Linked DNA regions of Homo sapiens: region 1 is linked to region 2. A link means that fine-mapping ties the variant in region 2 to the expression of a gene that starts in the linked region. Tissue or cell type: whole blood. Region 2 holds a variant in brackets; the other region holds the start of a gene. All regions are shown on one strand. Distances are from middle to middle.

What was found. PIP is the estimated chance that this variant, and not a neighbour inherited with it, causes the effect.
Region 1: GDE1 starts here. The variant in region 2 is fine-mapped to the expression of GDE1 in whole blood (TOPMed, PIP above 0.99).

What each region holds. Positions count from the first base shown.
Region 1 is chr16:19,517,341-19,525,432 of GRCh38, reverse strand. It overlaps GDE1 (glycerophosphodiester phosphodiesterase 1), which reads left to right and starts at 3,335. Exons shown (of 6, transcript NM_016641.4): 1 at 3,335-3,729. The coding sequence starts at 3,469. It overlaps CCP110 (centriolar coiled-coil protein 110), which reads right to left and starts at 1,491. Exons shown (of 14, transcript NM_001323572.2): 1 at 1,345-1,491. RefSeq lists a silencer at 3,374-3,543 and enhancers at 3,654-3,823, 3,134-3,868, 3,994-4,053.
Region 2 is chr16:19,490,856-19,498,959 of GRCh38, reverse strand. It overlaps TMC5 (transmembrane channel like 5), which reads right to left. Exons shown (of 22, transcript NM_001261841.2): 19 at 6,732-6,810; 20 at 4,594-4,698; 21 at 1,797-1,839; 22 at 1-1,040. The coding sequence ends at 994. It also overlaps the pseudogene RNU4-46P. Among named protein-coding and RNA genes, the nearest start is that of TMC5-AS1, 7.0 kb to the right of the region's middle. RefSeq lists a silencer at 2,239-2,450. The variant G/A (reference allele first, on the strand shown) is at 4,047.

The DNA of each region.
Region 1 (8,092 bases), 26 kb before region 2:
GCCCTGACTACAAGGCTACCCCAGCCACAAATCTACTGCTCTATATCTTGCCATCAGGCATCACTGGTCCACTTCCAGTAATAATTTGTCAGCTACAGCAGGTTCAGACATGCCGTCTTCTCCATTTATACCACAGAGAACCACTGACCCTTGTGCAAATGAGCCTCTTTGCAAACCCCGTAGACTCATGGTCCTATCTGCTCCTTACCCGTGCTCTGCCAGACATGTCACTGAAAAGAGTGGTAAAAGTAACACAGAACAGATCCTGCTTTTTTTTTGCAGAACCTAGTGTTTCTTTGCCCATCAGTTCCGCCAAAGACGCAAACTTCTTGTAAAAGCGGTAAAGGGGAAGATTTCTTATTCAGATGCGTACTAGCTGCAAGTTCTTGGCAAGCCAGTTACCATCCCCACACCTGTTTCGTCCTCTGTAAAAGAGGGATGATCACGGTATCCGTCTCAAAGGAATGTTGTAAGAATTCAATGAGCTAATGCATGTAGGGCAATTAACGTAGTGCAGAACACGCAGAAAGCAACAAATAATGGGGACTGCTTTTCTTATTAAGAGGATAATGATGATGACGATTTTTAGCAGTAGAGTATGAATTCCTGGAGGGCAGCGACAGTGCTTGGTTCCCCGTAGGTTTCAAATGAAACTGAAAAATATAGAAAAGGGGACAACGGCTTCCTCATTTCCCTGTCCCTAGACCTCTCCCCGTCAAATCAATCTCGAGATGGCTGCCATTTGCCTAAACTGGGGGTAGGGAGCTTGGATCGTAACCAGAATAGAATCAAAGGGTGGGAACCATCTAGCAGCTCCAGGGGCAATCGATTACTTTATTATCCTCAAGTTTATGCCCCAGAGTGGCAAAGGCGAAGTAAGCAGCGCTCCTAGGGCCTTGGTTGTGGAAACAGGGGCTCATAAATGGCCAATGCACACCCCGGGGAAGCCTCCCTCTCCAGCACCGTGGGAGGGAGAAGAAAAACGGCCCAAACAATTTGATCACCACGATGGGGTTCTCCGGCTCTGGCCCGAGTTTTATTCACCAGGGACGGCCCCCTGCCCTCTCCCCAGCGCCCCATGCCCACCTCCTCCAGCTCCTCCGATTTAAGACTCCAAACCGAGGGCCCTCCAGGCGGGGCCAGCATCGGAGCATCACCTCAGCGCCCGGTGCTGGCTGCCCCCGGGGTCCCGCCTCCCAACAGCCGGCGCCTTTCCAGGGGGCTCGAGGCCCGGGAGCCCAGCACAGAGCCCGCCCTCAGCTTCTCAGGGCGCCAATTTCGCCTCGCCAGACCACCTCTCAGCCCGGACCCGTCAAGGCTCAAGCCCCCTCCTCATGCACACACCTGATCCCCCACGGCCCCTTCAGCTCCTCTCCCCTCGCCACGGGCCTTGTCAGGAAGCGAATGGCTCAAATGGTACTGACAGAGCGCAGCTCGGTCCGCCGCCGCCTTCTCCTCCTCCTCCCCGCCATATTACGGATCTCAGGCTGCAACGCGGGCTCCTGGCAACCGCCGCCGCTGCCACCCCGACTCCACCTCTCAGGGCCGGCACTTCCGGTGGTTGATTCCCGGGCTGTTAAAACCGTTGGGCCACCAGAACACTACCATCCCCGAGGTGCATTGCGCGCCCGCGATGGAGGACGTAATGCTTACGGCCAGCACGCTGCACGCCGGGAAACGTAGTCTTCCTTGCAAGCTAGAGACTAGAATTTATTAATAAATTTACTTATTTAGTAGAATAGGAACACCCCTCAGGGTCTGAAGCCCCCTGAAGTGTTCCTTGAAGTTGCCATTTTTTTCTTATCTGTATAAAGATAACCCCTTTCTATGCAGCCGTTAGAAAACATGTAACATTCACCAAAATATTTTCTTGTAGGTAAAAACTTGCTGAACCCACCGGGCGTGATGGCTTACGCCTATAATTCCAACATTTTGGAAGCCGAGGCGGAAGGATCGCTTGAGCCCAGGAGTTCGAGATCAGCCTGGGCAACAAAGGGAGACGGCATCTCTACAAAAATTTTAAACGTTAGCCGGGTGGGGTGGCGCGAGCCTGTGATCCCAGCTACTCGGGAGGCTGAGGTCGGAAGATCGCTTGAGCCCAGGAGGTCGACGTTGCAGTGAGCCATGATTGCACCACTGCATTCCAACCTGGGCGATAGAGTGAGACTGTCTGAAAGAAAAAAAAAAAAAGGCTGAATCCTAGATGCCAACTGGAAGGCTTAAGACATCTATCCCCTTTTGCAAATCAGTGGGAAAATGCACTAAAGGAAAAAAAGGTAACAGAAAAATCCCTGAATATTTTTGCAAAGTTCTCTACATAAAAATGTTACCAGCCCTCCAAAATATGTCCAGGGGCCCCTTTTCACTCCCTAACTCGGCTTCATGGTCTATCTCTCTTACCCTCCTTCCAGTGCCTGTTTTTGCATATGTAAAATGGGGGTTTTAAAAGTGCCTATCACAAGGGTGGTTGTGAGGCACAGTTGAGGTAACTCCTGTACAGTGCCTGGTACAAAAGCCCTTAGCAGAAGTAAGATTAGGGGGAGGAGGAGTGAAAATGTCACAAATCACTGGGGAGGCCTTTATGTCAGTCCCCACCCTGCCATTAACTGCTTAATTCACCTATCCTCAGTTTCCGCATCTATGAAATAAGGGAATCCTTAAAACCCCTTCCAGTTTTATAATCCGATTGTGCCTTCTTTGCTAGGCTCTTCCAGTCCCCCAGAATCTGGAAAATAAAGTCGATTGAAATCAGTCTCCTGATAGTAACTGTTAGGCTGTATTGAGAATGAGATAAGCATATAAAGTGTTTGCTCGTCAAGTACCTGGGACATGGTAAGTGCTCTGTAAACGTTAGGTGTACTTGCTAACTTTTATTTCCTCCCACAAGAATGTGAATCCCATAAGAGCAAAAACCCTGTAGGTCCTGTTCAACTGTGTCCGGAGCACCTGGACCGGTATTTGGCACATCTTGAATTGAACTGAACTGAACTGAATTGAATTGAATTGAATTGATAGTCTAAGCATCCTGCCTCTCCAGGTTCCCTGGAATTCAGTTTCCTCAAGGGCAGATAAAGGAGTCACTAAAATCCCTTCCAGTCCTACAGCTTTAGGATGGTTCTTATCCCTCCTTTTCTCGCCTAGGAGTCTGAACGCCCAGGTTGAAGTTCAGACCTCGGAAAACCCTAACCCACCTTAGATTTGGAACGTGAGCCTGGGGCCTGGGGCCTGGGCCCTCCCCCGTTGCCATGGAGCGGCTCCGCCCACTGGCGCTGCGAATCCCGATCCCTGATTGGCTGGGCGGCCGACTCCCTCTCTGGATGTGTCTGCTGCCGCCATTGTGCGGCGCTGGTCCCCTCAGAGGGTTCCTGCTGCTGCCGGTGCCTTGGACCCTCCCCCTCGCTTCTCGTTCTACTGCCCCAGGAGCCCGGCGGGTCCGGGACTCCCGTCCGTGCCGGTGCGGGCGCCGGCATGTGGCTGTGGGAGGACCAGGGCGGCCTCCTGGGCCCTTTCTCCTTCCTGCTGCTAGTGCTGCTGCTGGTGACGCGGAGCCCGGTCAATGCCTGCCTCCTCACCGGCAGCCTCTTCGTTCTACTGCGCGTCTTCAGCTTTGAGCCGGTGCCCTCTTGCAGGGCCCTGCAGGTGCTCAAGCCCCGGGACCGCATTTCTGCCATCGCCCACCGTGGCGGCAGCCACGACGCGCCCGAGAACACGCTGGCGGCCATTCGGCAGGTGAGACCCCCACGTTCGCGCCCCTCGGTCCTCCCGAGAGCTCGGACTTCTACTTTTCCTTCCCAGGGTTCCCCGATCTTCTCAGGACGGCCTTCCCACTTCCTCATTCGTCCACAAGGCACACTCCCGGCCCTTGATCGCTCCCAGTGTCTAGGGATCTCCGGACTTGAGGTTTTATATTTACAGAAGACAGCAGATATGTATATAGTTTCTGTGCGCCTGACGCTAAGGTTACATACAGCCAGGAACAAGGTCAAAAGTGTCCCTGGTTTACAGAGTGTACATCGGAATGGGGGAGGCAAGCCTTAAACAAGTAAACACATAAATGAGATAACTTTAAGAGAGTGAAAGGTGCAATGAAGAAATCGGGGGAACTCGAAGGAAAGAGTTACGCTATTTTATTTAGATGGAATAGTCAAGAGAAATCGTCTCCGAAGAAGCAACATTTGAACAGAAACCGGAATTATAAGGAGCCAGGCAGGTGCAGAAGGTCCTGAGATGGGAATAATATAGGGGTGTTCAGGTAACAGAAGAGGCAGTGTGTGGCCTGACTTCAAGGAAGAGAACAAAGACTGGTGTGTGAATGAAGTAGAAAATGGGTCAGGTCAAATAGGTTCTTGGTCAGTAATTGAGGTTAGTCTAAATAGATCACCCTTCACAAGACATACGTTTGCTTGTCTTGTAAATCACTTGAGTCATTTCCTTATCACCTTTTCCCCAGACACACACATTCGCACTCGCACAACCCTGGCAGCTGGACTCACATCAGTTTCTGCCCCCTCCTTTTCACAAGGCACTCCTGAAACTTTTGATACCTCCCAGCTCTTGGCATTCTCCTAGCTTCATAATAATGACAGCTTACAGAGAGGGCTTTTCAGTGGATTAGGCACTTTTGCATCTGTGTAAATATATCTGATTCTCTTCTTTTTTATTTTTCTCTCTCTTCTTCCTTCCTTCTTCTTCTTTTTTTTTTTTTTACTTTACAGAGTCTCACTCTTTTACCCAGGCTGGAGGGCAGTGGTGCAATCTCCACGCACTGCAACCCCTGCCTCCCGTGTTCAAGCGATTCTCGTGCCTCAGCCTCCGGAGTAGCTGGGATTACAGGCGTGTGCCACCACGCCCAGCTAATTTTTGTATTTTTAGTAGAGATGGGGTTCTGCTATGTTGGCCAGACTGGTCTCAAACTCCTGGCCTCAAAGTGATCCACCCGCCTCGGCCTCCCAAGGTACTAGGATTACAGGCATGAGCCATCATGCCTGGCCTCCCTCATTTCCTTTTTTTTTCTTTTTTTTTTTCTTTTTTTTTAAACGAAGTCTCACTGTCTCCCAGGCTACAGTGCATCGGCGCAACCCCAGCTCACTGCAACCTCTGTATCCCAGGTTCAAGTGATTCTACTGCCTCAACCTCCCGAGTAGCTGCGATTACAGGCATGAGCCACCGTGCCCGGCCAAGATTTATACTTTTAAAGCTGCACTCTGGCCCATGTGGAGAATGTACTGTGGGTGTAATTTCATTCCTTTGCCACTGTTTATAGTAGTGTATCTGTTTTTGGAATACACTCAACTCACATTTATCAAGTTTTTCCTTCTATATCTCATTTATAATCTACCAGAAATTCTAGCACTGTCAGAAATGTATATATGTATGTATACATTCGACTTTACCAATAATTTTATTTATTTATTTATTTTTGAGACAGGGTCTCTCTCTGTCACCCAGGTTTGAGTGCAGTGGGGCGATCTCAACTCACTGCAACTTCCACCTCCCAGGTTGAAGCGATTCTTGTGCCTCAGGCTCCCAAGTAGCTAAGATTACAGATGTACTCCTCCACTCCCAGCTAATTTTTGTTTTTTGTTTTTAGTAGAGATGGTGTTTTGCCATGTTGGCAAGGCTGGTCTCAAACTCCTGACCTCAAGTGATCCACCTGCCTCAGTGGATTACAGAGTGCTGGGATTACAGGCAAAGTGCTGGGATCACAGGCATGAGCCACTGCCTGGCCAGCTTTACCAGTACTTCTATGTTATTCCAGTAATTGAGATAAAAAGATGAATCCCTGGTTCTAATTCACATATTAGTATATATAGGAGATATTGCAAGTTCAGTTCCAGACCTGAGTAAATAGTCAATAAAGCAAATATAGTAATAAAGGGAGTCACAAATTTTTTGGTTTCCCAGTGCATATAAAAGTTATGTTTACACTATATTGTAATCTATTAAGTATTGTGTATGTATATATATATATATATATATATATGCACATACACACACATATATAGGTTTTCATCCATGGTTCCTGGCTCATAACTCTCAGCCCTTGCTACAGTATTTTGTTAGGCATCCTAGGCCTTAGGAGCAGGCCTTGGGAAACAGAATCTCTCCTGCCCTCCTTTCACCTACCCCAAGGCAGGACTGGAATCTTTCCCTGTCTTTCAAATTGTGAGTCTTAAGACCCTCCTCAGAGAGGGACCCCACCCTATACCCTGGGGGAAGGAATGCTGACATCATGAAGCTTCCATAAAAACCTAAGAGGAATTAAAAAAATAAAAACTAAAATAAACCTAAGAGGACTTGAAGCCAATTGGTCAGAAGTTCCATAGGCCCCAGCTTGCTATTTGTGTCTGGAGGAGGGTGGGGTGCAGTCTTGGGGACCAAGCCCTCAACCTATGATCTGACACTATCTCCAGGTAGATAGTGTCAAAATTGAGTTGGAGGATACCCAGCTGGTGTCCACTACTTATTGGTGGGGAAAAACCCCCACATTTTTGGTCACAGACGTCGGGGTTGATTGTTGTGAGAGCAGAGGGAAAATGTGATGTGTTTTTCCAAAATAGTCGTACATCTGTATCACATGGGAAAAGGAAAAGATTTAAATAAAGCAGAAAAATCTCCACCCATAAAGGACGTTATTGATAAATTTGACTATATTACCTTTAAAGATGTGTTTAAAAGGACATAATAAATAACAATGGCTAACATTTATTGAAATCTTAACTATTCACTAGCACAGTGCTCTGTGTTGTTTATGGGTACTTAAATAAAAACCGGTAAGGGAGTGACATGAGAATGATATACACCAACTTTAAGATGGTAATTACCTCTGGAGAGGAAAGGAGGAGAATGAAAGGGAGAATTTCAGCTGTATCTGTAGTGTTGATAGTAAAACTGAAGCGGATAAGAGTGCAACTTCTACTGCATCCTAGCTTGTGCAGCCCTGGGCAAGTTTCCTACTCTTTCTTTGTCTCAGTTTTCTTATCTGTTAAATGAGAATATTAATAGTACCTGCTTCAGGGTTGTGAGGATCAAATAAGTTAATACATTTAAAGCACTTAGAAGAGTGCCTGGCAAGTAGAAAAGGCTCAATAAATAATAGTTTTTGTTTTTGTTTTTGTTTTAGTACAGAAAGAGACTGAGGAAATTAGGTCAAAATATTCACATATGTTAAATCTTTTTTACTGTAGATGTTTGCAATAGACCATGACTTAAAATATTTTTTAAAAAATTAAAAATCTTGATCATAGCTGGGCACAGTGGCTCACACCTGTAATCCCAGCACTTTGGGAGACTGAGGCAGGAGGATTGCTTGATCTCAGGAGTTCGAGACCAGCCTGGACAACATGGTGAAACCCCATCTCTACAAAAAATACAAAAATTAGCTGGGCATGGTGGCACGTGCCAGTAGTCCCGGCTACTTGGGAGACTGAGGTGGGAGGATGGCTTGAACCCAGGAGGCGGAGGTTTTAGTGAGCCGAGATCATGCCACTGCACTCTAGCCTGAACAACAGAGCCAGATCCTGTCTCCAAAAAAAAAAAAAAAGAAAGAAATCTTCATCGTAATGAGCATTTCACATCTTTATTGTGATGAGGAAGCCAAGGAAGCAAACATTAAATAGTGTGTCTCCAGAGGAGCATGGCTCGTGTAATTTAAGGTTCAAATTCTCTTTTTAGATAAATTCTAATCTACCTCATCAAGCTTAACAACTTATGGGCCAACAGCCAGTGCTGCTTACATAAACAAAATGTGATATGTCCTAGAAGCAGGCGTGGTGTCTTTGTGGTAGAGGGTGGAATTAAACCAACAAAAACCTGACTCATTTATGCCAAAGTAGTGAAATATCTGACTAATCAACAACCGTAGGGTGATCATCAGAACTGCTGTACCAACAAATAGTGTAGGTAAACAGTGGAATTGTCTAAGTATTCATAAGCCATTGATGACCCATATAGTTAAACATCCAGAGAAAACATAAGTTCCTGAAGTCTCCTAGTCTTCCACTGTGAAAGTAAGAAGAGTGGGAAAATTAAAGTTTTTAAGGAATCCATCAGTTAGGAATTGAAGTAAGGTTATATACACAGAAAACAGAAA
Region 2 (8,104 bases):
CCTCCCGAGTAGCTGGGATTATAGGCATGTACCACCACGCCCAGCTAGTTTTTTTATTTTTAGTAGAGACGGGGTTTCACCATGTTGGCCAGGCTGGTCTTGAACTCCTGACATTAAGTGATCCGCTTGCCTCAGCCTCCCAAAGTGCCGGGATTACAGGCATAAGCCATCGCACCCAGCTAATTTCTTTTCTTTTCTTTTTTCTTATTCAGTCTCCGTAGAGACTGTCAAAAATTGCCAGCGCTGATTATATTTCAAGTCATCACGGTGGGGTATTGGGAAAATTTCCAATTAGCAATAATCGCGTCTCGGATAAATCTCATTGGCTACGGTACTGCCACTGCAAAGCTAGCTTGACGTAGGACTTTGATGGTCATGTATAACACCTCACAGGGGCAGAACCTCCTCCATCCCCGACTCCAAAGACTCATGTAATCAGTACGCAAGAAAGTTCAGAGATGAGACCTCTGGTTGTATTCCACCTTTGGGACATGGGGGATGTCTTTAGTTCAAAGTCACAAATAAATGCAGGTTCTACAATTCAGAGGCTTCATATCCCTGCTGGAGTATTACATGTTTATTCAGGATGGACCACTTTTCTTAGCAACAGTTTCTAAACCTTTGCCAGGTCTGGGAAGTCTGGCAGGAGAGATTTCTAAGAACCAATCATTCCTGCACACACTTCTTGAAGATAATATACATTATTCCCTAGTTATCTCTTCCTAGGTTTTTGTAGGCTCATTTCAATATTACAACAATCTTTATTGGAAAACCCCAAGTATTTTGTCTTGAAAAATCAGCAATCCAGGTATTAAAAATAGCATGGAATGCCCAATTTTACTTTGATAATTACATGGTAGTCAGTTTCCGCTCCTGGCTAAAGCCTTGGATTTTCTTCTGGGCAGTTCCTAAAGGCACAGGTGGCATGGAAGAAATCATTCCATTTTCGTCTCCTCCCCTTATTTGATTGGTGTCTGGTTACCAAAAGAGTCATCAGGCCCTTGGATTACCTTCTTGAACTGATCTTCTAGATCGCAAGTCTAGGTTTGACACAGGAAAGAGAAGTTAACGCAGGCACACTCTGCCCCATCTCTACAAGGGAAAGACCAGCTTGCCTTCAAGATTCCATAGCTTCTCATGCCTTCTTTGCCTCTTCCTTTTAGTTTCTATAATCCTTCCCTTGAACTCCCATCACTGGAAGTCATCAGTAAATGCTATCCCCCAAAAATAAATGGGTTTGCTTGTTTGTTTCCTGCCCAGAATTCGCTCTCCTGGCATCAGCCCCAGATTTTCTTTAGGAAGTCACCCTTCCCTACTCTTGGTCCCTATGGTCTTCATGGTTGCACCACCTGCATCTACAGATGAAATCATGTGATCAAGGGAACTGCCACATTTTTGCACCCACAACAATTGGTTCATAGACGGGGACATCACCCAGTCAGATCCTATGAAACACCGTGAGAATCCTGGGTCCCTCAGTCTTTCCCACCAGACTGACTCTGAGAAGATATAAGAAGTTGATAAAGCTGTCTTGCACTTATTAGGCAGAGTCTATTGCAAAAGGAACTAACATGGGTAAGAACGGAACTGAAAGAAACCGGGTTCTGGTGACACTGTGAGTTCCTGCGTTAGGCAAGGCCTAAAGCAAGAATTATTCTTGGAATTTTGTTTAAGCCAGTTTGGATCCAATTTGCAACTGAAAAAGTAATGGACACATGAGCAATTCTTACACTTGTCTTAGGATATTTCACCAGAAATAAATTAGTGTCTTATTCTGTCCCAGTTTAATTACTCACCAAGACTGCCATCATGTTCCCCCAAATGCAAAAAGCCTTGTTGCTGAAAAAGAAAAAAACAAGCAGCCACGTCACGGAGGAAGAATGCAGATTCTGGGTCTTGTCACATATTTGGCACAATTTGTGAGCCCCTCACCATTTTATAGAAGTTAAGGGATGAGAGATTAAGGCCAAGTCTCCGCCATAGAAATATTGAACATGTTTTGTTTTTTAGGGAGAGTGATTCCATTCATTCATTCCACAGATACTCTTTTTTTTTTTTTTTTTTTTTTTTTTGACAGAGTCTTGCTTTATCTCCTAGACTGGAGTGGAATGGCATGATCTCGGCTCACTGCAACCTCCGCCTCTCGGGTTCCAGCGATTTTCCCGCCTCAGCCTCTGGAGTAGCTGGGATTATAGGTGCCTGCCACCACGCCCAGCTAATTTTTTTTTTTTATTTTTAGTAGAGACAGGGTTTCACCATGTTGGTCAGGCCGGTCTCAAACTCCTGACCTCAAGTGATCTGTCCACCTCGGCCTCCCAAAGTGCTGGGATTACAGGCGTGAGCCACCGCACCTGGCCGTTCCACAGATATTCACTGAGCATTCATATTATGCCAGGTAATAAATTAGGACGTGGGGTGACAAGTGCACAGACGTGGTCCTCACCTTCAGAGAATCTACCTTTAGGCCTCTAGATCCCTTACCTAAATTGTGCTGACAGTATAAATTTGCACAGATGGTAAATTACTTGTCAGTCACTTCTGTCAAGATCACAATTTCCAACATAAGTGGTATTTGCGTTAAGGTGGATTTACTGTTCATCTGTATTTTCAGGACACTCAGGAAGCAAGCAAGGCTTTGGAATTAGAGCAGGGTTTCATGTATCTTTATATTCTCTTGGTAAGAATGAAATTGATTAAATCTTTTTAAGGGAATGATATAGCAATATCTATTAACATTGTCATGTACGTGCTTTGTGGCAGAAATATTCACAAAAAATAACTTTTTAATTTTTTTTTTTTTTTGACACGGAGTCTTGCACTGTTGCCCAGGCTGGAGTGCAATGGTGTGACCTTGGCTCACTGCAATCTCCACCTCCTGGGTCCAAGTGATTTCCTGTGCTTCAGCCTCCCAAGTAGCTGGGATTACAGATGTGCACCACAACACCCAGCTAAGTTTTCTTGTTTGTTTGTTTTTGTTTTTTATATTTTTACTAGAGATGGGTTTCACCATGTTTGCTGGGCTGGTCTCGAACCCCTGACCTCAAGTGATAAGCCCGCCTCGGCCTCCCAAAGTGCTGGGGATCACAGGAGGGAGCCACTGTGCCCAGGGTAATTTTTTTTAGAGAGAGGGTCTTGTTCTGTCTCCCAAGCTGGAGTGCGGTGATGGGATCATAGCTCACTGTAGCCTCAAACTCCTGGGTTTGAGCAGTCCTCTCACCTCAGCTTCCTGAGTAGCTGAGGCTACAGTTGCATGCCACCGTGCCTAATTATTAAAATTTTTTAAGGGATGGGGTCTCGCTATGTTGGTCTTAAACTCCTGGCCTCAAGCAGTCCTCCCCTCCCACCTCAGCCTCCTGAGTAGCTGCGATTATAAACGCACAAAAAATAATTGTAACAAAATGTTTCATTACCTACTGTTTTAAGTATTTAAAAACATAGAAACAACCCAAATATCCAAATATGTACAGAATTAAACATCGTTCAAGATATAGTATTTAGTGGTGGGCTGCGGGGGAGGGAAGTTATGATACTATTTGTATAATATAGCCTCACTTTTGTAATAAACAAGTAAATTAAAGTGTTGGTAGATACAGGTATGTTTGCAGATGCCTAGGGAAATAGATTTGCAAGAATAGACACTGAAGTAGGCCGGGCGCGGTGGCTCACGCCTGTAATCCCAGCACTTTGGGAGGCCGAGGCGGGCGGATCACGAGGTCAGGAGATCGAGACCATCCCGGCTAAAACGGTGAAACCCCGTCTCTACTAAAAATACAAAAAATTAGCCGGGCGTAGTGGCGGGCGCCTGTAGTCCCAGCTACTTGGGAGGCTGAGGCAGGAGAATGGCGTGAACCCGGGAGGCGGAGCTTGCAGTGCGCCGAGATCCCGCCACTGCACTCCAGCCTGGGCGACAGAGCGAGACTCCGTCTCAAAAAAAAAAAAAAAAAAAAAGAATAGACACTGAAGTATTCATAGTGAGATGAGATTTCAGGGCCCTTTTCATCTCAGTGGGATCTACTTCTGTATTATCGGGGTTGTGAAAAACAAGC[G/A]TGCAAGTTCCATGAGGGCGGGGGCTTTGTTTTGTTCACCGTAACCCCAGCACCTAGAAAAAGTACAGGCATGAAAAGTGCTGAAAAAATGAATATTACTTTTTTTTGAGACAGAGTGCCACTCTGTCACCTAGGCTGGAGTGCAGTGGCATGATTTTGGCTCACCGCAACCTCCACCTCCTGGGTTCAAGCAATTCTTCTGCCTCAGCCTCCCAAGTAGCTGGGGCTACAGGTGCGTGCCACCACACCCAGCTAACTTTTGTATTTTTAGTAGAGACAGGGTTTCACCATATTGGCCAGGCTGGTCTCAAACTCCTGACCTCTTGATCCACCCGCGTAGGCCTCCCAAAGTGCTGGGATTACAGGCGTGAGCCACTGCACCTGGCCATGAATATTACTTTTTAAGTAAAAACCACAGAAATACTTAAGACAGAGAGTGAAGGGCCCTTCCATGATCCCAAGAGCTTGGTCTGTAGTTCTCTGACGCGCTTTTTACATGGAGGCAAGCTCGTGTCCCAGGGGTCCCCAAGGCAGCCTCCAGACTCACCTCCACCTCTCTCCTTTCCAGAACAAGTGAGCTGGGGTTTGCTTTCTTCTCCATATCCTGCAGCTTGATCAATTTTTCTATCAGGAACATTTTATCTTTGCCCTCCTACCAAGAAGGAAAACAAAACCAGAAAGAAACAAAAATATGAATGAATGATGGTATGGAATTGAGAAAGCAATTGATGGGAAGAACGTCGGTTTTCAGGCAGCTAGGATCCTAGAAGTTGGATGGAGGTTACTGCCATCTTTTGGTGAAAGAAAAGAAACATTTCACAGTAAAACCAAATTATCCCCCAGAGCCTTCCTGCACTGTAATATTCTCCTCTAAAGCAATTCCCCTAACAGGCTTGAGAAAGTAGCCTCCAGAAGTCGGCTGCTGGAAGCAACTTACATGCCACGTCTCAATACCCAGGAAAAATGGTTTCCAGTATCCCCCATAGGCACGTGCCCCAGAGCAAGACTCCATGTCAAAACAAAAAAAAAAGATATATGTAGGATATGGAAAATATGAAACAGATGACCTGCATTCTTTAACAATAAAAAGAAAAGAGGAAGTGGGGAGGGGAAGTGGTAAATGGTTATAGAGTAAAAGAAAGTTAGGCATATTGGCTGGGCGCAGTGGCTCACGCCTGTAATCCCAGCACTTTGGGAGGCCAAGGCAGGTGGATCACTTGAGGTCAGGAGTTTGAGACCAGCCTAGTCAACATGGTGAAACCCCGTCTCTACTAAAAATACAAAAATTAGCTGGGCGTGGTGGCACACACCTGTAATCCCAGCTACTCAGGAGGCTGAGGCAGGAGAATCACTTGAACCCAGGAGGCAGAAGTTGCAGTGAGCCAAAATCATGCCACTGCGTTCCAGCCTGGGAGACACAGTGAGATTCTGTCTCAAAAAAAAAAAAAGAGAGAGAGAGAGAGAGAGACATTAACCAAATGCAACATGTACCCCCTTTTCAGATCCTGATTTGTGCAGTTCTAGTATAAAAAGACACTTAAGGGGACAGTTGGGGAAATGTAAACATTGGATATAAGATGATAATAATAAATTATTGTTAAGTTTTTTAAGTGTGATGATGATATTGTAGTTATTTTTAAAAGTCTTTATCTCAGCTGGGGGCGATGGCTCACACCTGTAATCTTAGCACTTTGGGAGGCCGAGGCGGGCGGATCACCTGAGGTCGGAAGTTTGAGACCAGCCTGACCAACATGGAGAAACCCCATCTCTACTAAAAATACAAAATTAGCCGGGTGTGGTGGCAGGCGCCTGTAATTCCAGCTATGCGGGAAGCTGAGGCAGAAGAATTGCTTGAACCCGGGAGGCGGAGGTTGCAGTGAGCCAAGATTGCTCCACTGCACTCCAACCTGGGCAACAAGAGTGAAACTCTGTCTCAAAATAAATAAATAAATGAAATAAAAGTATTTATCTTATAGAGAGATATATATATATATATATCTAAGTTTTAATAAATAAAAAATAATATAAAGCCTAAGATTTGCTTTAAAATAATCCAGGGAGCCAGATGGAGTGGCACCTGCCTGTAATCTCAGCTACTCCGGAGGCTGAGGCAGGAGCCCAGGAATTTGAATCCAGCCAGGGCAACATAGCAAGACCCCCACCTCTAAAAAAATAAAATAAGGCTGGGTGTGATGGCTGTAATCCCAGCACTTTGGGAGGCAGGTGGATCACCTGAGGTCAGCAGTTCGAGACCAGCCTGGCCAACATGGTGAAACCCTGTCTCCACTAAAAATTCAAAAATTAGCTGGGCATGGTGGCAGGCACCTGTAATTCCAGCTACTTGGGAGGTTGGGGCAGGAGAATCGCTTGAACCCTGGAGGCAGAAGTTGCCGTGAGCCGAGATTGCACCACTGCACTCCAGCCTGGGCAACAAGAGCAAAACTCTATCTCAAAATAATAATAATAATCATCATAATTAAAATAAATAAATACTAAGAATAAAAATAAGGGATTTGCTGGGAAGAGAAAGTGTAGATGAAATAAGAATATAAAAACATTGATGGTTGTTAGGGCTGAGAGCAGGGATATGAGAGTTCATTGTAGTATTCTCTTTATTTTGGAGGATGTTTATACAGCGTTTAAAAAGGGTGAGGGCGGACATCAGAGGGATCCAAGGGGACTTACATTAATGATCTGCTCATGGAGCAGCCTTATCATAATCTTCCTTCCCTCTGTGATCTGCCAGTAAAGATAGGTGATGATTCTGGAAGAGGAGAAAAGAAAGAATGACACTCTTGCAAATGTTTTGCAGGCTCTGAATTTCCACTGGATGCAAAGGAACTGGAATCTGTGCTTGCAGATGGATTTGGCCCAAACATGTTTCTGAAAAGTCATGTCAGGGAGAGTTATAGGTTAAATACATTGGAACAATGGTTCCTGAAGGGGGAAATAAGCCCATGCCACAGCTCCTCTTCAGACCAATTAATTGAGCATCTCTGGGCATGTCATCTCCTTAAGAGGAGAAAAGCAGGTATTGCTTTCTTAATAGAATAAGTTAAAAAAAAAGTCCCTAAGATGACCCAGCACGGTGGCTCATGCCTGGAATCCCAGCACTTTGGGAGGCCAAGGCGGGCGGATCACTTGAGGTCAGGAGATCGAGATCATCCTGGCTAACACAGTGAAACCCTGTCTCTATTAAAAATGCAAAAAATTAGCTGGGCGTGGTGGTGGGTGCCTGTAGTCCCAACTACTCGGGAGGCTGAGGCAGGAGAATGGCATGAACCCAGGAGGCGGAACTTGCAGTGTGCTGAGATCGCGCCAGTGCACTCCAGCCTGGGTGACAGTGCGAGACTCTGTCTCAAAAAAAAAAAAAAAAAAAATCCCTAAGACAAGAAGATAGTATATATAACCTTTCCCCCCTTCCCCCAGTGATGGGGTCTTGCTCTGTTGCCCAGGCTGGAGTGCAGTGGCACGATCAGAGAACACTGCAGCCTCAAACTCCTAGGCTCAAGCAATCCTCCCATCTCAGCTTCCCAAGAAGCTCAGACTACAGGCACAAGCCACTGCACCAGGCTAAGTAACTTCAAAAAAACTATCAATGCAAGCTTGGGCAAGGTGGCTAACACCTGTAATCCCAACACTTTGAGAAGCTGAGGCAGGAGGATAATTTGAGGCCAGGAGTTTGAGACCAGCCTGGGCAACACAGGGAGACCCCATTTCTCCAAAAAATTTAAAAATTAGCCAAGTGTAGTGGTGCACACCTGCAAGCCCAGCTACTTGGGGGCTGAGGTGGGAGGATGGCTTGAGCCTGAAAGGTTGAGGTTGCAGCAAGCCATGACCATGCCGCTACAGTCTAGCCTGAGTGAGAGATCATGACCCTGTCTCAACCAAAAAAGAAAGAGAGAAGTAAGGAAGGAAGGAAGGAAGGAGAAGGGGAAGGGAAGGGAAGGGAGGGGAAGGGGAAAGGAAGGGAAGGGAGGGGAAGGGAGAAAGAAGGGGAAGGGAAGGGAGGGGAAGGGAGAAAGAAGGAAGGAAGGAAGGAAGAAAAAATGAAGAGG